Homo sapiens: one gene and its partner. The protein of the gene in region 1 purifies or fractionates together with the protein of each later gene. This does not show direct contact. Each region holds a gene or a part of one and is shown on either strand. Other genes may lie near its edges.

Region 1 (12,701 bases):
TCCTACTTTACAGTAATTACAAGTAAGGATATACAGATTGTATTTGCTGGTGATTTTACCTATGTTCTTTGCCAGCCTGGCTAGGTTTACTTCTTTTATCAGTGGAAAGTGACAGGTGCATCAGTCCTCTCCACTGATGCCAAAGAAATACCAGGTGTATCCCTTAGAATGCATATAGCCAATCTCCTGGATTTGCCAACACCCACATATCTTTAATGGTCTTCCAGACATTGCTTTCTTAAGATGTTTACATTCTTTATCAGATTATCTTTTACTCCTGGCGCCAACCACTTTAGCATGTTTTCAGTTATTAGAGTCTTAGGATAGTATTTTCTTTGAGATTCAAACAAAAAAGTATTCTACATAGTACTTGTAATCTCTTTCACAATTGTAATTGCCTTTCACAAAGCCGACATTGTCTGATTTTTTGATTCTGCTGTTTATATCTTGGTAGTGTTACCTGTTGGTCCCCTAGTAAACAGTGACAGCAATCTTCTGAACCAGGCTGAGGCCCAGTCAAGTGTAGATAGACATGTATTTCTTATCTCACTGTGGTTTTATTTTTCTGCATGTCTGCCCTAATCAAAGCTTGTGCTGGGAGCTGCAGTGCATCTCATATCTCGGCCTCGGGAGGAATGGTTCATTGCATATTCTCTCAGAGACAGCTGGGCGCTTCGCAGGGAGTGGTCCCCCTCCCTGTCACCAGGGCAATTCTCTTTCACATCTCCCAGGACAGATGGAGAATGAAGAAATTAATAATTCATAGTGTGTATTTAAGTGGTGATTCTTCCTAGACTGAGACATACTTGCATTTTGTTCAAAAACATCTTGATGAAGACAGGCCCAGTGGTGACCTAAGAGTTAGAACATAGGAAGTAGGGAAACTCTTACTAAGAAAATGGACAATACAGGCCAGGCAGGGTGGCTCACGCCTGTAATCCCAGCACTTTGGGAGGCTGAGGCGGAAGGATCACCTGAGGTCGAGGGTTTGAGACCAGCCTGACCAACATGGAGAAACCCTGTCTCTACCAAAAATACAAAATTACCCAGGTGTGGTGGTGCATGCCTGTAATCCCAGCTACTCAGGAGGCTGAGGCAGGAGAATTGCTTGAACCTGGGAGGCGGAGGTTGCAGTGAGCCGAGATTGCACCATTGCACTCCAGCCTGGGCAACCAGAGCGAAAACTCCATCTCAAAAAAAAAAGAAGAAAGAAAATGGACAAGACAGACTGAAATTAGCTAGCAGCCATTAGCTCAGGTACCTTTTAAGTGCTCATTGTACTGATTGATGTTTGGATAGTGCATTAGCAGAAATATTATCTACTTGCACTTACGTTCATGTGATCTGTAGGACTCAGGGGTCCTGTTTGTGTCTGTAGTCATAGTTAAGTTTATAGTCAGTTCCTGGTTGGTGCTGGGGAAAAGAAATCAGGATGCATTCATTGTGAAATACCCTTACTGTCCTCTCAGGAGAGAAGAGGAAATGAGTGTGTTCTCTCTCTTGGTTAGAAACAGATAAAGCTGTGTCCCATTAGCAGTTGGATAGGAAACGGTAACTGGAACCTTCTGTCTAATCTGGTTTCCTTAAATGTAAGGAGCAGATAACTGCATCTGGGGAGTAGTGCTCTTAATAAGGATTATGGGGGCTTCAGTTGCAATGGCTCCAGTTGAAGAGCCATGGGATTTCATCTGTCCTGAATCATCTGAGTGTTATTCTTCTTCACATTAACTGTGTTTATCTGTTATAGTATATAATTATGCTGGTTTGTTATGTATTTGAAAAGCACTTAGCATGTTTTGAAATGTAGCGTTGAAATGACTTTAAAATGTCAACTCTGTAGTTTTAGTTTTAGGGCACAGTTCTTGCAAATTCCTGCTTTTCCTCTCTGACCCTAGTAACTCTGAAATCAGTAGTTGCAAACAAACAAACCCTAAAGCCTTGTGTGTCACTTTTCTTTGGGATAGTTGTTGAATTCAATAGCTCATTATTTCACGTAATATTATGTTCATAGTGCAATTTAACATGTAGTCTTTGAATGTTATAAATTCTAAAAGATTAAACAAGAACATTAGAAAAGGAATGAAAAGTGCTCTTAAAATCCTGCCCTAGGCCGGGCATGGTGGCTCACTCCTGTAATCCCAGCACTTTGGGAGGCCAAGGTGGGTGGATCACCTGAGGTTAGGAGTTTGAGACCAGCCTGGCCAACACGGTGAAACCCCATCTCTACTAAAAATACAAAAATTAGGTGGGTGTGGTGGCGCATGCCTGTAATCCCAGCTACTCGGGAGGCTGAGGCAGGAAAAATGCTTGAACCTGGGAGGCGGAGGTTGCAGTGAGCCAAGATCGCACCATTGCACTCCAGCCTGGGGACAACAGGGAGACTTCGTCTCCAAAAAAAAAAAAAACTCCTGCCTTTCTTGTAATCTGATGAAAGAACTCTGCCTACAGAGGCTTTTAACTATGCAAATTCTTTCCATATTTTTTTTCTTTTTCCTAATATAGTTTATTAGCTTTTACTCAGACTAGGTATAAATAAATAATTATCCCTTGCCTTAGAGGTGAAGTCATTTGAAAGCTCCATGGAATACATTTCTTCTTTAAAAACGCAACAAAAATTTTTTATTGTAAATTGACAATTTATAATTGTATAAATTTATGGGTTACAAAGTGATGTCATAAATTGTGGATACAATGTGGAATAATTAAATAAAGCTAGTTAACATATCCAATACTTCCAATACATTTCTGTGATGAGAACATCAATTTTGAAATGTGTAATACTCCATTATTAAGTATATGCACCACACTGTACAATAGAACTCAAAAAAAGTATAAAACATATTCTTCCTGTCTGAGATTTTGTACCCTTTGACCATCACTGAATTTTTTTTTCTTTTTCTTTTTTTTTTTTTATGAGACAGTCTCACTCTGTCACCCAGCCTGGAATGCAGTGGTGTGATCTCGGCTCACTGCAACCTCCGCCCCCCGGCTTCAAGCAACTCTGTTGCCTCAGCCTCCCCAGCAGCCAGGACCACAGGCACACAACACCACAACCTGCCAACCTTTTTTGTATTTTTAGTACAGATGGGGTTTTGTCACGTTGTTCAGGCTGGTCTTGAACTCTTGACCTCAGGTGATCCACCCACCTTAGCCTCCCAAAGTCCCAGGACCACAGACATGAGCCACTGTGCCTGGACTAAAATTTTTATGAGACAAAATATCAATTTCAAAACAGCATCAAAAAGTGAGTAGGCCAGGCACGGTGGCTCATGCCTGCAATCCCAGCACTTTGGGAGGCCGAGGTGTATTTTTCTGTACTAAAAATACAAAAGTATTTGTCTCTATTATAAATACAAAAAAAAAAAAAGAAATTAGCTGGGCACTGTGGCACATGCCTGCAATCCCAGCCACTCAGGAGGCTGAGGAAGGAGAACCATCTGAACCCTGGAGGCAGAGCCACAGTGAGCTGAGACTGCACTACTTGCACTCCAGCCTGGGCAACAAGAGTGCAACTTCGTCTCAAAAAAAAAAAAAAAAAAATGCTGGGCGCGGTGGCTCACGCTTGTAACCCCAGCACTTTGGGAGGCCGAGGCAGGCGGATCACAAAGTCAGGAGATCGAGACCATCCTCGCTAACACGGTGAAACCCTGTCTGTACTAAAAGTACAAAAATTAGCTGCGCGTGGTGGCGTGTAACTGTAGTCCCAGTTTCTCGGGAGGCTGAGGCAGGAGAATGGCGTGAACCTGAGAGGCGGAGGTTGTAGTGAGTGAAGATCGCACCACTACACTGCAGCCTGGGCGACAGAGCGAGACTCCGTCTTAAAAAAAAAAAAAAGAAATATACATGATAGGAATTCCAGGAATCTTATGGATTCTTCTTTTAAGGTCCCGGTCACTGGGCGTGGTGGCTTACGCCTGTAATCCCAAGACTTTTGGAGGCTGAGACGGGCGGATTTCACCTGAGGTCGGGAGTTTGAGACCAGCCTGACCAACGTGGAGAAACCCCGTCTCTACTAAAAAAAAATACAGAATTAGCCGGGCGTGGTGACAGGTACCTGTAATCCCAGCTATTGGGGAGGCTGAGGCAGGAGAATCGCTTGAACCCGAGAGGCGGAGGGTGCGGTGAGCCGAGATTGCGCCATCGCACTCCAGCCTGGGCGACAAGAGCCAAACTCCCTCTCAAGAAAAAAAAAAAAAAAGTCCCGGTCAACTGTGGGCACAATGTAACACTTACACACACTTAGGCTGAGTTACTCTCTGTACTAAGCAGTCATGTGCATAGGTTCCTGTGTGTGTACATGGTAATTGTTCAAATCTTGGATCCTTGGCGATCCTTAGAGCCACTCAATACTTCTGCCCCAATTTCTCAATTTCAGCCATTACACAATCAGTTATACAAGGGATACACTTGACATGCAGACAGCCCATCATTGACTGCACTAAGTCCAGTTTGGCTTTTATGGAAAAGTTGATAAAGTTGGTATCAACGAGGATGTGGTAAGGTGGGCCCAGCTGTGTATTATATTGGCAAAATAATCAGGAAAGGTGTTGCGGAACTTCTCTTTCCTTTAACGCGCTGGGATCCTTCTTTTCTTTCTCTTTAGGTTTTAATCTATCCTTTTCTTTAAGCCTCTGATCTCTGAGACTAAGCGTTTGCTTCATGGTTGTATAGTTCCTCATTTTCTTTTGCTTCCTCATGGTCACACCACACTCCTGTTTCTTCCGTAATCACCAACGGTGCAATGCTTTTACCTGGAATACATTTTTATGTTAGTCAAACTGTCTCGTTCCTTTCTAATAGATTCAATAAAGATAAGTGTTTTATTCGTGGATTTAAGGGCATAAATCTAAAGCTCCATGAACTGAATTGCTTATCATGTAACACTTTGATTTTCCTTTTCCATGACCAAATCGCTTTTCTATTCTATTTTCTAATACTAAGTTATTGTAAAACTATCACAGTTTCATATATTCCCAAAACCAGGAATGCGTCTTATCTGAACTTCCTTAAACTCATGATGAGTCAGAGGAGGCCAGTTTTCATTAGTAATCAGCGCCAAATTCATTTCAAAGAAAGATCTGTGTGGACATAGGATTGGTATGGAGAAAAATATGGTGATAAATTAACTGTGTCTCTTGTATAGTTGAGTAATAGAATTTCATTGTCGAACCCTGACCTGAAATACATGTTTTCTTTTATCAAAGTAGAAAATGAGTTGCTGCAAGTAAAGAAACTGTATTAGATATTGTATAACAGAGACTTTTTTTTTCTATTAAGTACTAACATTGCTTTTGTTTCTGTTCCAAACTTTGAAATCAGTGCACTTGGACAAAATGGAAACTGCTTTTCAAGGTCCTACAGAATATATGTTTATAAATGTATTTTTATACATGGTTGGTAATGAATCAGGTCTCTTTCGTGCCATTGCAGTTAGAGGGCCTCTGGTGCTGGAGTCCTCTGGAGGACTGGGCTGTCAGAGTGGGGCAGCGGGGTGCAGCGCGGGGAGGGCTTTTCTCTTTCTTCGTGCCTCTGGTGCTGGAGTCCTCTGGAGGACTGGGCTGTCAGAGTGGGGCAGCGGGGTGCAGTGCGGGGAGGGCTTTTCTCTTTCTTCATGGGGTCTCAGGGCCTCTCTCTTCCTCTCCACGTATGCTCTTCACAGGTCTCTCCAGCAGGGTAGTCAGATATCTTACATAGCGGCTTAGGGCTCCCAAAAGCAAACATTCCAAGAGGAAGCAGAAGCTGCCAGTCCTTTTAAAGATGAGGCTTGGGTGTGACATGGTATAACTTTTATTGCATTCTATTGGTTAATGCAGATTACAGGCCCAGTCAGTTTCAGATTAGAAGAGAACAAGGGAATGAGGCTGGGTTCCTTGGAGGCTATTTTTTTTTTTTTTTTTTTCTGAAACAGTCTCGCTCTCTTGCCAGGCTGGAGTGCAGTGGTGCGATCTCGGCTCGCTGCAACCCCTTGGAGGCTATTTTTAGAGATGAACTATCACAGTAATATACCTTAAAATACTTCATTTTAGACAGTTTTTGTGTGTTCTAGGGGTGGTCAGTTGCACTAACCAAGAATCTATGAGGTGTGGTTGGCCAGCAGTATATAGAAAGAGCTGTACCGCCGGGGCTGCCACTATAAGCACTTCAGCTATGCAAATTTTGATCAAAACTAGGCCAGACATGTGGATGTCTCTTGGTGGGGGAGGGATTTCCTGTCCCCAGGGACAATGAGGCTTCCCTAGGTTGGAACTGGGTGTGACGCAGTCCCTTTTGCTGGCTCTTCCCACCTCCCCACTGCTCCTTTCGTCCCCCTCTGTCTCCAAGTTGGTAAAGGAGTCAGGCATGGTGGGAAGGAGAGCACTTCCCTTAGCAAGTTATTGTTTAATGGGAGCTGGTGGGAAGAGTTCTGTCATTTAATCCTTGCCGGTGGTGCTATATGTAGTGAAATCAACTGCTACAGTGGTAGGGGCCTTAGAGATCATCAAGTCCTACCTCTAAACCATGAAGTTAATCTTCTCTCACCATCTTTGGCACATCCCTCAGCAAGCTAGAAACAGAACTCTGCGTTTTTTCCATAAAGTACGAGAAATAATGATTTCACCTTTAAAAACTGCCTTCCTGAGTAAGTGTCCGTTTGGTCAACCAGACTCCATGGGTCCTAACTTTCGTCAGGTTGTTCTTGCAGAACATGCCAGCAGAAGCATTCACCAACTGACATGTGCCCTGAAAGAAGGCGATGTCACTATTGGAGAAGATGCACCAAATCTTTCTTTTAGCACCAGTGTGGGAAATGAGGACGCCAGGACAGCCTGGCCCGAATTACAACAGAGCCATGCTGGTGAGTGTGAATGTCAATCCTAGTCTGAATGATGCATAGTGAATTTTTTAAACTCCGTAGAATAATAACTCCATTCATTCTTCATTCTGCTGCTATGATGTTATTCCTCAAACACAAATCAGATAATTTAATTCCCTCGCTTAATCTTGTTTTCCTTTGACTTCCCAATGCTTATAGGCTAAAGTCCAAAATTCTTAGTTATAAAATAACAGTGTTTTCCTAAGATAGCTCTAACCTGCCTCTTCGGCTCATCTTTGTGTACTTCTCATGCTAATCATCCATCTCACAACTCATATTCTAGTTATAATAACCTCCTCTCTATGCTTTTATGCTTTGACATGTGCAGTGACTTCTAACTGGAATTTTTCTTATCCTTTTCTGCTTGGTGAACTCCTTCCTGTTTATCCTTGCAGTGTTATCTCCTCTGTGAAAACAAGCACAATTAGCTTCTTCCTCTTCTTGTAGCACTGTGCATAGCTTTAGGTCTACATACAAACTTATTTTATATCTATTAGTGTCTCTCTCTTCCTTGCTAGATTCTTAGCTCTTAAGGGGTAGAAATTCTTTTTTTTTTTTTATGTTGGTCTTGTATCCCCAGTTGATAGCAGAATTCTTGATGCATAATATATCAGCAATTTTTATTAGTTGGAAGGATGGATGGGTGGTAAGAAACCATGGATCTCAAATAAGGTTAATAAACCCTCTGCTTTTGCTCTATAGTTAATCAGCTCAAAGATTTGTTGCGCCAACAAGCAGATAAGGAAAGTGAAGTATCTCCGTCAAGAAGAAGAAAAATGTCCCCCTTGGTAAGTATCAACTTTTCCAAGTTGACAAAGCATTCCTGTGTTTTACTGTATTGTGTTATTTTGTAGTACATGTTGCAGAAAAAATTTAAGCATGGCATACTAATAGTGAAAAACATTAAAAGTAATTCTCTTCCCTCTGATTATTTTGGCTGAAAAAATAGATTTCCATGGCAGAGGGAATCTTGATTTTTTAAATTTATTATTCACTTGGAAAATGGGAGCAAGGGAATAGTTTGGAGAATTTATTTTGCAACTGTTAGCAAAATATGTAATATAAATATATAATATATAATAAATTAATATAATAAATTATATGTCAGAATATATGTAAAAGATAAAGTCATTATTTTAGTAATTTCTTTTTTAGAGGGTCATATCTATTATTGATCATTTTTAGAAGTTACTTAATTATAATTGTAGCCCTACTTTGTAATATTTTTTAAATTTTGAGTGTCAAAATAATACATTTTATTTTTAATTAATTAATTAATTTTTTTGAGACAGAGTCTCATTCTGTTGCTCAGGCTAGAGTGCAGTGGCATGATCTCGCCTCACTACAACCTCTGCCTCCCTGGTTCAAGCGATTCTCCTGCCTCAGCCTCCCTAGTATTTGGGTTTACAGATGTGCACTACCACACCAGGCTAATTTTTTGTATTTTTAGTAGAGATGGGGTTTCACCATATTGGCTAGGCTGGTCTCGAACTCTGAACCTCAGGAAATCCATCAGCCTCGGCCTCCCAAAGCACCGGGATTATAGGTGTGAGCCACCGCGCCTGGCCTCAAAATAATACGTTTTAATATGTAATGTTCTATATGTTAAAATATATGGTTATAAAATAGTATGATATATAAGAAGTGGTGCTGTATTTCTTCTGAAGTTGTTTGTTATTGCTTTGACAGAGTGTATTATTTCTGATTAAAGCATTTTATATGCTAAAGGCTGAGATAGATGTGAGTGAAAGCACTCTGGACCAGATTTAAGTGGACAAAATAATAGTCAAGGGCTTAGTTCTATCTAGGGTCTATCACATACTCTCTAAGATATTGTGCCTGTCTCACAGAGTTTTTGGAATAATGAGATAAGATTACATACTTAAAATTCTTTAGAAACCTATGAAGTGTTACATAAACATAACATGCATAGCAGCAAGTAACCACCTCACATTTTCAATGTGTTTTCTAGTTCAATACAATGCCTGTATGCTGAAAAGTGTGGAGACATGTCACTTTCTTTTCTTCACCACTGAAATATCAGAGTATCACTCCCATACGAACACTCCATTCCAGGCTGACACATACTTTTAAGCTTAATTCCTACTTTAGAGAAATGTACTTCATATGCATATTCTAAATTTATAGATACAGATTTTATAATTTTAGTAAAACATCTCATCATTTAATGAATTTATTACTATTGACATCTGGTTTCTAGCTTGCTCTTAAGCACAGACTGGTGGAATGCTTTTAAATCTACTAGATGAAGTTGCTTTATCTGTTGAATGCTCAGACATGCTTATTTGCCTTTTAAAGTCTGAGCAGTGATATTATGGAGCTTACTGAATCCAGACAGGCAGGAAGACCTTCACTAAGAGAATCAGTTTAGTACATACAGAGTGCACTTTAAAATACACAAGTCTATTTATATGGAGCTATGTAAAAGAATGGAACTTAGACTCTATATGTATACAGCCTACATGTAATAATTATAAACCATAATAGTAATAATTAGCTTTTTAAGATTATACCTTTAGAATGCACTTTCATAGCCAGTATAACATATTAGAAATACATGCATATATTGAGAGTAAAACTGAGGCACTGTTGAGATGGAAAAAAAGTTATTACTTATTGTCTTAAAATGTAGATATCTAAACTAAAGCCCTTCAAAGTAGACACAAATGATTTCATGTGAACATTTTTCATACAATATTGGCTTGAGCTTTTTATTTTTCACATTGACTTCCTCCTGTATACTCATAGTAGTAATTTATATTTGCCTATCTTCTGAACCTATTGCTATTAATGGAGGATGATTATAATTGTTTGATTTCTACTCAGGACAGATAATTCATTTAATTAGAGTTACTTTGGTTTTTAAATTTCTTAAATATACCAAAAAACCAAAGCTCTATTTTATTTTATTCTGCCATGATAGCTGGTACTTGATTATCATTTAAAATGTCTGCTGTGCTGAGAAAGAGAGTGGCTGAGAAACAGACACTGTGCCTCATTTCAAGCTTTCCTCTGGCTTTGTTTAACTGGTTGACCCTTGTTTTACCTTTTCCTGATTTCCTCATCCTTTAAAAAAAAAATTATGTGATGGGTATATGATTTTACAAACTATTTTAGGATAAGGTAAGCTATACATTAACAGTCAGTTCCAGGAATGCTACAGAGCTAAAATAGCATTAGCGTTTTTTTGAAATCTCTTCGTTGGACCCCTCAATGCAGTGTGTCTCTACTTTAGGGTTCTACTCTTGGAGGTTCTATGCTCCAGAACACCATACACTTGAATTGCCTTCAATACTAGAGCCAAAAATCAAAAACTACATTTTGCTAATGTATCTTTTTTGAGATGGAATTTCATCGCATTGACACTGGCTTGGCATCAAACGCTTCCTAAAGAATCTCTCCTTCACGGAGCTGCTGCAGTTTTAGCTAGCAAATCCTCTTCCATGGCAGTTTCTTGGAGAGAGTTGTCCCTTGTATCTCAGCATTACTGAATGGAATGTTGTTTTTCCAATTTGTTAAAATAGTTTATTCCAAGCCAGTTATACTACTGCTACCCCAGCATTTTTCCATTCACTATATGTGCTTTTTATAACCACTTTCACCATCCATCTTTAAAAAAAATGATATTCACATCCATGAATCTTGTGTATTTGTGGAATTTATAGGATAGAGAAGCAAGTATTTGTATTAGTCCATTCTCGTGTTGCTAAAAATAAATACCTGAGGCTGGGTAATTTATTTAAAAAAGAGGTTTAATCAGCTCATGGTTCTGCAGGCTGTATAGGAAGTGTGATACTGGCATCTCACTCTGGTGAGGGCCTCAGGAAACTTTCAGTCATGGTGGAAGGTGAAAGGGGAGCAGGCATTTCATGTGGTGAGAGCCAGAGCAAGAAGTGGGAGAGGTGTCACATTCTTTTAAACAACCAAATCTCACCAAAACTCAGAGCAAGAACTCATTATCATGAGGATAGCACCAAGATTCATTCATCATGACCGAAACACCTCCCACCAGGCCCCACCTCCAATGCTGGGGGCCACATTTCAACTTGAGGTTTGTGGGGGACAAGCATCCAAACTATATCAAGACTATAAGCTACATTGTGATCGATTCTATGTTTATATCACATCAGTGCAAAATTGAGTATGGAGAAGGTAACAACTGATTCTTTGCTAAATCCAAACATGCTTAATTTGGCTTTTTAAAATTTATGTATTTATGTATTTATTTATTTATTTTTTGTCATAGAGGTCATTAGAACATGAGGAAACCAATATGCCTACTATGCACGACCTTGTTCATACTATTAATGACCAGTCTCAATATATTCATCATTTAGAGGCAGAAGTTAAGTTCTGCAAGGTAAGTTTCTCATTAAGAATTTAAAACTAAATAAATGAAAGCTTATATTAACTATAGATTGTATTAAAATTTGCTGCTATAAATCTTCATGTTTGTAGCAATACATTGACAATTGCTATTCTTACGTGATTGAGAGACTGATGTGTCACAAGAGCTTGTCAGACTTGGGAATGATGCTCTTGACCATACCATTTCTGATTGCTTGATTTCCCAGTAGTTCATTACTATGTCTAATGATTTCATAATATGCTTTCATATTTCAGAAGTTTTCCTTCTCACCCCGCTTGCTGTAGCCCAGCAAATGGCAAATGCTTTGGAATACAAATACCAATCATTCTCCCATACTTGTCAACCTACTGGAGCAGTGGTACAGCAATCAGGGATTCTAAACTGGTAGACCAATTCTTCTCCGCTGTCAGTATTAAGGCTCTTACTTTGACTTTGAATGAGAATGGTTCATAGGGTACTGACAGTAATGATCAAGAAACCAAACACATCATATATAGCTTATGACACTAGAAGGTTATATGCTCAACTGCGTGCAGTTTGCTAATGTCATTAATGCTAATAGAGCCTTTTCATCTTCCCGAAGTATGTCGTGTTTTACTTTTTTTTTTCTGTTTCTTTCTCTCTTTCTTTCTTTCCCTCCCTCTTTCTTTCTTTCTAGTATCAGTGTATTCGATTGTATGATATTTTTATAGGAATCACTGATATCTCTTGTATCATGTTTTTATATATAGTATATGATATTATGTATTATATTGTTGACATTTTAAGATGCAAGGCCAGTATGTAACTTAAGGAGGCTTTAGATGTTTCACTGTCCTGATTTTACCGGGGAGTTTCTGATCTTAACATGTAATTTCCTGTTTGTTCTTGGAGGACACAGTTATTAATATACACGTGGTCCTGGATTACCAGTAAAGCTGAAATAATATCCTAGGAACTATTTCATTAACAATACTCTATTAATCCCTAAGATGTTGTGGATAAAACTTGAAAGATATAAAGCAGAATAAATTTACTATCTAGTTGAGAAGACAGAACTATTCCCTATTAACACCATAAGGAGCACATTAGAGAACATAGTATAGGCCTTTACTTTTTGGTATAAGCTATAATTATAATAAGAGAAGAAGGTTAGGAAAAGCTACTGTCTTTGGGAATGTTTCTATGGGAGAGAGAGATCTTGAACCAATGTTTTTTTTTTTTTTTTTTTTTTTTTTTTGATGGAGTCTCGCATTGTCGCCAGACTGGAGTGCGGTGTCACAGTCTCCGCTCACTGCAACCTCCGACTCCCTGGTTCAAGCTATTCTCCTGCCTCAGCCTCCCCAGTAGCTGGGATTACAGGCCTGCGCCACCACGCCCAGCTAATTTTTGTATTTTTTGTAGAGACGGGGTTTCACCATGTTGGCCAGCATGGTCTCGATCTCTTGACCTCGTGATCCGTCCGCCTTGGTCTCCCAA
Region 2 (8,612 bases), on another chromosome or scaffold:
TAGGTCAGTTCATAAAATACACTGAGGACTTCTGGCTCTTTCCTTCTACTTCCCAGTAGTGATATCATGTAGCAGTTTTAGTCTGTGGAACTAGACACATGTGATTTTTTCCTAAATTTGTTAGCTCAGCTATGGTAGTTTATTTACTTTTTATATTTTTGTTAATTTCAGGAACCAGAAGCTCCAGGAAGAAAAACATAAAAGCATAACTGAGGCACTTAGGAGACAGGAGCAGAATATAAAGAGTTTTGAGGAGACCTATGACCGAAAGCTCAAGAATGAACTTCTAAAGTAATTGTTTAGCATTTTTAAATAACTAATATGTTTAAATTAAATTGGTAGAAACATAACAAAAACTGACAAAGTAGTCTGTAACTTAGGCAAACTTTAGTGTTTGAAAAAAAAAAAACATAGTTTTATCGATACAGTCAATCCTTTCCTGCATTTGAGTTAGGATAGTTTTTAAAAGATAAGGGCCGGGTGTGGTGGCTCATGCCTATAATCCCAGCACTCTGGGAGGCTGAGGTGGGCGGATCACCTGAGGTCAGGAGTGCAAGACCAGCCTAGCCAACATGGTGAAACCCCATCTCTACTAAAAATACAAAAATTAGCTGGGTGTGGTGGTGGGCACTTGTAATCCCAGCTACTGGGGAGGCTGAGGCAGGAGAATCACTTGAACCCGGGAGGCAGACGTTGCAGTGAACTGAAGTTGTGCTACTGCACTCTACTAGCCTGCGTGACAGTGACAATCCATCTCAAAAATTAACAACAATAAAAAAATACAGAGAAGCACATCCTCTGCGCTTCTTATGGCTTCTCTAACGTTTATTGTGGGCTGTGATTTGCTTTAATTTTCAGGACACCTTGTGACTTGCTTAGCTTGCATAGTTGATAAGCTGTAAAATTGGAATTATAACCACTTTTAGTTATCTTTTCCTCTACCTCACTCATACAGTCAGAAGGATGGGGTTATCTGACAATATATAAATTATACTAGTGGTCATAGTATTTGTCAGTGAACATGTGCCTTGTATTCCTTCAAGATTCAGCAAAGCCAGAATCAAAAGAGCTAAAATTAACTATGTGAGGCAAAAAGTGATATAGGGAAAGGAAAATATGGACAACTATGGTAACTTTGGCTTTTCTGTAGTCTGAGTTTTGTGTATCAGTGAATAATATCTCAGTGCTACGACATTATGCCCATGTGGTAACATTTCTCTTCAGTGTGTGGGAAAGCATCTGGCACATAAAAAGTGCTCAGTTAATATTTGTTGTAAATGTGTCACGAGGAAATGATTCAACTCAGGTGCTCTGGGCATTTCTTATTTGGCCTCTTTTATTGCCTTTCTCATAATTTGTCATCGATATTCCATTACATAATATTGCAAAGGTTTCTTGAGGTAATCCTTTAAACAAATCCTATTTTTAAAAAATATGGCAGCTTTTTTATCTATTGATTTTGAAATGATGTATTTTACCCACATCTTCTATGTCAGTTTCTATACTAAAATAGCTAAAATGGAAGTGTCTGTAGTTGCTGAATTTTTAGGAATAAATGAATTAAAGTATGTGTGTTAATTTTACATAGTTATGGAGCTAGTGAACTATTTGGTGTCATTGTGACAGCTTCCACAGGCTGCATGGTGTCTGCCTGGCTTTGGGAATCCTCATATGACTTTGGCAGGTGTTGGAGTTTGGAGGCTCTTCGCCACAGGAGTGCTTCTATTTCCTTTTGGAACCAAAAGGGCAGCTGGTAACAGCTGGGAAAGGGAAGTGAAACTGTGAAAATGTGCCTTTTGGTATTGCTAATCCGGATATAATGCTCTTGGCAGTTGGCTCTCAGGACTGTGCTTAGTCCCTGAGCACAAAAGTTCTTACCTTGGTTGGGGGTGGGCAGATGGTACAGGTGGATTGGAAGTGACCGTCTGATTATCATTTGGGATTGAGTCTGTTGTGTGCTGTGTAAATTTAATTTACCCCTTTGCTCTTTGTGTCAGTTGAGACCAACTGAAAAGTGATTGCTTTCAGTAAGTAACCTTATGATAACACGACGCTTCATTTTGTGTGATTGAGTTTTGGGACCCAGTTTATAGGATCAAGGAAGGGTTTTACTGGGCATTTTATGTTCAGGGGTTATATCCCTGGCTTTAGTATTGAGGACTTTGAAGTTTACAAGTTGTCATGTTTAGCACCCTCAGGTGCTCCTGTGCCATAGATAAGCTCCTGCACTGATAACAGTCTTTCCAGAAAAATGCCTGAGGAGCTCATATTTAGTCATTCTGATTCTCAGGTATCAACTTGAACTGAAGGATGACTACATCATTAGAACTAATCGACTGATTGAAGATGAAAGGAAGAATAAAGGTGATGTTTGGGGGGAAAATAAGCTGTATTTTTCAGTTCTGCTGTAGGTTATTAGCTTCCCAAGTTGGGTCTTTTCTATATTCTAAAAAATACAGCTTACACTTCATTGTTCATACAAAATTACACATTTTTTGTAATTTTAATTTTATAAATTAAAAATCATGGTCTTCACTGCCTTTTGAGGAACCTTCATGTTTAATAGTTTGTATATTCACAAAGGCCAGTGATTTATCATGGATATTTTATCCAACTTTATTTCATATATTTTGATAAATCTGCAATTGTCAGGAACGTAGCAGCAACTTATTGCTGTCAAGTACGTATTACTCCTAACCATGAGAGACTTTATTTTTCACTTACGGAAAACTTTTAACTTCTCTGTCCTCTGTGACCTAGTTTCTTATTTCTTTTGCTTCTAATATATTTTTATGCTTTATAATATTTTTACTTGATGTATAACCTTCTGAACTCTTGTGTACATTGGCCTGAGACTATGGAAGTTGAATAATTTTTCAATCTTCAGATGTTTTACATTTCAGTGTATTTTTTTTTTTTTTTGAGACGGAGTCTCGCTCTGTCACCTAGGCTGGAGTGCAGTGGTGCGATCTCGGCTCACTACAAGCTCCACCTCCCAGGTTCACGCCATTCTTCCACCTCAGCCTCCCCAGTAGCTGGGACTACAGGCACCCACCAACACGCCCGGCTAATTTTTTGTATTTTTAGTAGAGGCGGGGTCTCAGCGTGTTAGCCAGGATGATCTCGATCTCCTGACCTCGTGATCCGCCCGCCTCGGCCTCCCAAAGTGCTGGGATTACAGGCGTGAGCCACCACGCCCGACCCATTTCAATGTATTTCTAGGAAATTGCTGTAACAAGAAGTTGAAGTTTTGGTGGAAATTTCAAGTAGATTCCTGGGAGGAAACCAGGGTTAGATAGTTGATGTTGACCAGATACCCAATGTGTGGCTACTGTCTTTTTTTTTTTTTTTTTTTAAGAGACGGAGTCTTGCTCTGTTGCCCAGGCTGGAGTACAGTGGCACAATCTCAGCTCACTGCAACCTCTGCCTCCTGGGTTCAAGTGATTCTTGTGCCTCAGCCTCCCAAGTAGCTGGGACTACAGGTGTGCGCCACCATGCCTGGCTAATTTTTGTAGAGAGAGAGTTTCACCATGTTGGCCAGGCTGGTCTCGAACTCGTGACCTCAGGTGGTCCGCCTGACTTGGCCTCCCAAAGTGCTGGGATTACAGGCGTGAGCCACTGTGCCCAGCCCCTTTTACTATCTTGTGGAGACTAATACTTCTTTTATGCATTAATACCATTACGTATGTAACAAATTATGGTTTGATGATATATCTACATAGACTTGTGTTAGATGAAGTGAAAACTACAAAATAGTAACTACAATATAGTAACAGACAGATCTTTGTCTTCAAGGAAGTTAAGAGCTGTGGGTATTAGGGCCCTGTGCTTTGAGCACATGGTATAACTCTGGTTAGCATGTATAGCAAGTGGAATTTCACCACATATATGACAGTTACAGCTTCACATCACCTGTTGGGTAACAGGGTTTATTTCTTACTTGCCCGCTACATCTGCTATTTGGATTGTGAAATAGTGGTCATTAGGTCTGACATACTGGCCATAAATATTAAATGGCTTTTGTATTCACTAGGAAAACATTATGGTGTTTAATTGGTGGGCTCTTTTTTCAGAAAAAGCTGTTCATTTGCAAGAGGAGCTCATAGCTATTAATTCAAAAAAGGAGGAACTCAATCAATCTGTAAATCGTGTGAAAGAACTTGAGGTAATTGTTAAGCATGTTGGTTTTTGAAATAGATTTTAAGCAATATATGAAATTTTAGTCATACATAATTTATCCTAAGTCATCCTGTTGAGATGTTTGGACTGCCATTTATATGGCTAAGAAGGTGTTAGCTGAAGTTAATTCAATAGTTCTTAATTTCAGTCAGTGTCACATAGGAAAGTGTAGATAGAGCTTTGGGTCCTGGAGTCCTGCCCACATCCTGTCTGTGTCTCTAACTGCTTGTGTGTCGCTAGGTAAGTTCTGTGACTGCAGGTTCCTGAGCTGTAAACTAGGATGTTTTCCACATTATAGGGTTGTTGAGGGAATTCAGTAAGCTAACTTATGTGCCTAGTTCATAGCAGGTGGCCATTACTATTAGTTTCTACATCAGCCTGTTATCTCCTTCCATCAGCAGCAGGTAAACAAAATTCCTGTCATTACATTGTTATCTTACAGATTAAAACAAAATGAGGTACATTTTTCACATATCATTGCTTCTTTACTTTTCTGTTCATTCGTGTGCTTGCTGTCTGAAGGATGAAGCTGGAACTTTAGGTACTTACAACATATTTTGTATATGAAATTTATTTTAGCAACTGTGACTTATGTGAGAACTTTGTAGGCTTTTTACTCAAATATGAGATATACTAAGAAAAGGGAAGCACTTCACAACATTTTACAGAATCTTTTTTCCTTTCTTTCCCTTTTTTTTTTTTTTTTTTTTTTGAGACAGAGTCTTGTTCTTTCGCCCAGGCTGGAGTGCAGTGGTGTGATCTTGGCTCACTGCAACCAACCTCCACCTCCCGGGTTCAAGTGATTCTCATGTCTCAGCTCCCAAGTAGCTGGGATTTCAGCCATGTGCCACCACACCCAGCTAATTGTTGTATTTTTAGTAGAGATGGGGTTTCACCATGTTGCCCAGGGTGGTCTCGAACTCCTGAGCTCAAGCAATCCTCTTGCCTCAGCCTCCCAAAGTGCTGCGATTACGGGCGTGAGCCACCATGCTCAGCCATTTTTATCTTACCTTTCATATTTAAAAAATATATATTGCTATGATGTGTGATTATTGTTGGGTTCTTGGTTGCCTCTGGAAAATGGGATGATAATCTTAGAAGGACTTGCTTCATGGGATGCGGCCTATAAAAGTTCTGCCCCAACTGTAGGGCGGAAGATAATTTTCGTTATTGTAGTTAGAGTCTTATTGTAGAGAATCAGACTTCTGTCTAGTGACCTTAATTAAATTGTGACACCATGCTTAAAGGAGCCTGCCAGCTTTTACTTTTGCAGTACTGTAAAGTCATTATTCAAATGTAAATTTTCCTTTTTGAATTTTAGCTTGAATTAGAGTCTGTCAAAGCCCAGTCTTTGGCAATAACAAAACAAAACCATATGCTGAATGAAAAGGTTAAAGAGATGAGTGATTATTCACTACTAAAAGAAGAGAAACTGGAGCTTCTGGCACAAAATAAATTACTTAAACAACAACTGGAAGAGAGTAGAAATGAAAACCTGCGTCTCCTAAACCGTATGTATTTTTCTTTTCTTCTGACTTGCGTGTTTTAGTAATTCGCATTAGGTCAGTATTATAAAACTATGCTTTGTACTTGTATAAGGTAGGGGGCTTACATTGGGAAGATTTATAAAATTAAGATTCTTGGATTAAACTCTGCAAACCTGCCTATAGGTGGTATCAAAGCTTCCCTTGCCCTCTGACTGCTGATTGGGTTTGGCCAGTGGGGACACCAGCCTCTACATACAGTGGCCCTAGGCTGGCCACTGTGCCTCATGGCCAAGTGAGGCCATAGTGCCTGCGATTACCTCTTCCAAGTGCTCTGCACCACCACCCTGTCTCTAGTGCTGAGAATTTCTCCCTCCTCTGATTCCCCAGGCCCAAGGAGCGCTAACAGTATGGCCCTGTTACTAGCCCACCCAGGGAACTCCACCATCCTTTGTGCATACCCTGAATAAGTCAACCTTTATTAAAGGGTTCTTAGATGACCTTGACCGTGAGAGCCATCTGCCTTCTGCCTGGATCCCAACTGCTGCTGTCAGATGCCCAGATCATATTGGATCCCAGGGCTGTCATCAACAGGTAGACCAGATAGAGAGCTCCTTCTGTGCACAGTAGAGGAGAGAAACAGGCTTTCAGGTTAATTTGAGAATTTGAAAGAGTTCTTTTACTTGGAGTAGGACTCCAAGGGTAATAAAGTTTGCATTAACATGCACTAAATTCTTTTGTTGTGAAATTTGAGAGTCAGGATTGCTCTGAGCTCATTTAATAGAATTATTATCATATTTATTGAGTCAGTACAAAGCAAAGAACACTTTAAAACCCCTTTAACTGTTTTTGTTAAGTTAAATAAGAAAACTTAAGGTTGGTAATGACTAGGATTTTTTTTTTTTTTTTACCTTCTTAGGCCTAGCTCAGCCGGCTCCTGAACTTGCAGTCTTTCAGAAAGAACTACGGAAAGCCGAAAAGGCTATAGTGGTTGAGCATGAGGAGTTCGAAAGCTGCAGGCAAGCTCTGCACAAACAACTGCAAGACGAAGTGAGTATTGCTCTTCTTCAGTTCTAGTGTGATACCAGTACACTTCATAGTTACGTAAACTTGGCACAAGTCACACTAGTGTAAATCAGATTTATTTTAACATCAAACATTACTCCCCCAAATATGCTAAAGGTATCCTTTCTCATCTGAGAAAATTCTGCAGTGATAACGTGACTTTATATTCGTAATAGTAATAAAATGGAGAAGAAAGCAAACTCACCTAAACATAAAATTTTCTGAGTGCCTGATGGTGCCCACTGTTATCTCTCGATTCTCACCCTGATAAGTATTACAAACATTCACTGTCTTCTGATTTCTGCCTGCATGCCCTAGAGTTCTTTGATATGACTGAAAAAGATGGTGAAGAACTTGTTTGTGTGTTCTGCTTGTGTTTTTTTTTAATAGGGACCCTGTTGTTTACTGTCATAAAGCTTCTTGGAATTGGCAGAACAAAAAGAGTACAAACATGATAAGAGAACTTTTCCTTTTGAAGCAAGCTGTGATTTGTTTTACATTGATTTCTTTTCCTATTCTGAATCTTTTCAGATTGAGCATTCTGCACAGCTGAAGGCCCAGATTCTAGGTTACAAAGCTTCTGTAAAGAGTTTAACTACTCAGGTTGCCGATTTAAAATTGCAACTGAAGCAAACTCAGACAGGTTAGAGACGTTTTAACCCATAAATATTTTTGTATGTATAAAGCTTCTGGTGTCTGTGAAAATGTAATGATCATAATTTATTGAATATTAATTATTGTTTTAGGGGAAAAGCCATAGAAATATGTGTCATCTTAGAAGTAAAACTCCCTATCCATTTTGGTAATACCATCTGGATCATCAGCAAAAGTATTTTGCTTCATAGGTGCCTCATGGCTTGGGAGAGTCTCATGCCCCAATAGGAAAGGCGTGGTGGTAACATAGAAGTCCCCATATTCATTATAGGATTTCCTTTTTTATTTGTTACCCCAATGTTAACACCAATTCAGTAGTTTTACGGATTCCTTGATAGATATATAAATATACAGGACAAGCAGGGTGGTTTAGCAAAAAGAATATTGCCTTCAGAATCAGAACTGTTCTTCTTTTGGACCCGTTTTGAAGTTGTTTGACCTTGGGCATGTTACTTTAACTTCCTTGGGCCTCAGTCTCCTCATTTGTAATGGGGATAATAATACCTACTGAGCCATGATGAAAAAGATGAAATGGGTTTCAGTCCAGTGCCTGGGACATAAAAGACACTCAGGAAATGGTTATTGGTATCATTTTATTATTGTGTCTTCACTGTGGATGCATCTCTGCCCCTTCCTACTTCGTAAGAAGGATATTAAAGTTCAGATACTTTATTCTTCAGTTGCTTTCAAGTTCAAAGAAAGTACGTATGTGTTACCAGTTCAACTGGGTCTGAGCCTTCCTTGTTCCCACCTGCATTGTTTCCTCATCAGCTCCTTGCTCTCTTCTACCAGCACTTGTTTTATTTTTATCTCTACTCGTTTCTGCTTTTTTCTGTTCCTCATTTTCTTTCAGTTCTGTTTGTGAAACTTCTCACAGCTGAAATCATAGCAGTCTCCTATCAATAAAAAATAGTTGAATGAGGATAGAACTCTTTCGCATGCATGTGTTGCCGAGGGCAAGCTTCTTTCTTGTAGCATCACGGGGAGGCATTGCAGGAGAGAGGGGCAGGTGCACTGGCTTTGCATTAGGAAAGCCCAGTAGCTCTTAGACTTGCTAACCGTGTGACCCAGCCTCAGTAAGCTTTAGTCCCCCCATCTGTAAAATGGGAGCAGTGAGAGTTTCTTGACCACAGTGTTGTTGTGAATGCAGGTCCTCACTTCCTTATATGAAACTCGGGCCATATGCTGTGGATTTCGCAATAGCCCTGGGAGTTCTGAACAGCATCCTAT

Evidence for each region.
Region 2: the proteins of SDCCAG8 (region 1) and OFD1 purify together in Homo sapiens (affinity purification with mass spectrometry; 2 studies listed by BioGRID and IntAct, with this or other methods). This does not show direct contact.

The regions. Positions count from the first base shown.
Region 1 is NC_000001.11:243,263,423-243,276,123, forward strand, and holds part of SDCCAG8 (serologically defined colon cancer antigen 8), read left to right. Parts: intron 1-4,198; exon of another isoform or gene 4,199-4,751; intron 4,752-6,669; exon of another isoform or gene 6,670-6,682; coding exon 6,683-6,835; intron 6,836-7,555; coding exon 7,556-7,641; intron 7,642-11,120; coding exon 11,121-11,234; intron 11,235-12,701. UniProt on the Homo sapiens protein: Plays a role in the establishment of cell polarity and epithelial lumen formation. Also plays an essential role in ciliogenesis and subsequent Hedgehog signaling pathway that requires the presence of intact primary cilia for pathway activation.
Region 2 is NC_000023.11:13,751,078-13,759,689, forward strand, and holds part of OFD1 (centriole and centriolar satellite protein OFD1), read left to right. Parts: intron 1-171; coding exon 172-291; intron 292-1,626; exon of another isoform or gene 1,627-1,640; coding exon of another isoform or gene 1,641-1,753; intron 1,754-2,290; coding exon 2,291-2,364; intron 2,365-4,073; coding exon 4,074-4,165; intron 4,166-5,500; coding exon 5,501-5,690; intron 5,691-6,582; coding exon 6,583-6,713; intron 6,714-7,259; coding exon 7,260-7,371; intron 7,372-8,612. UniProt on the Homo sapiens protein: Component of the centrioles controlling mother and daughter centrioles length. Recruits to the centriole IFT88 and centriole distal appendage-specific proteins including CEP164. Involved in the biogenesis of the cilium, a centriole-associated function.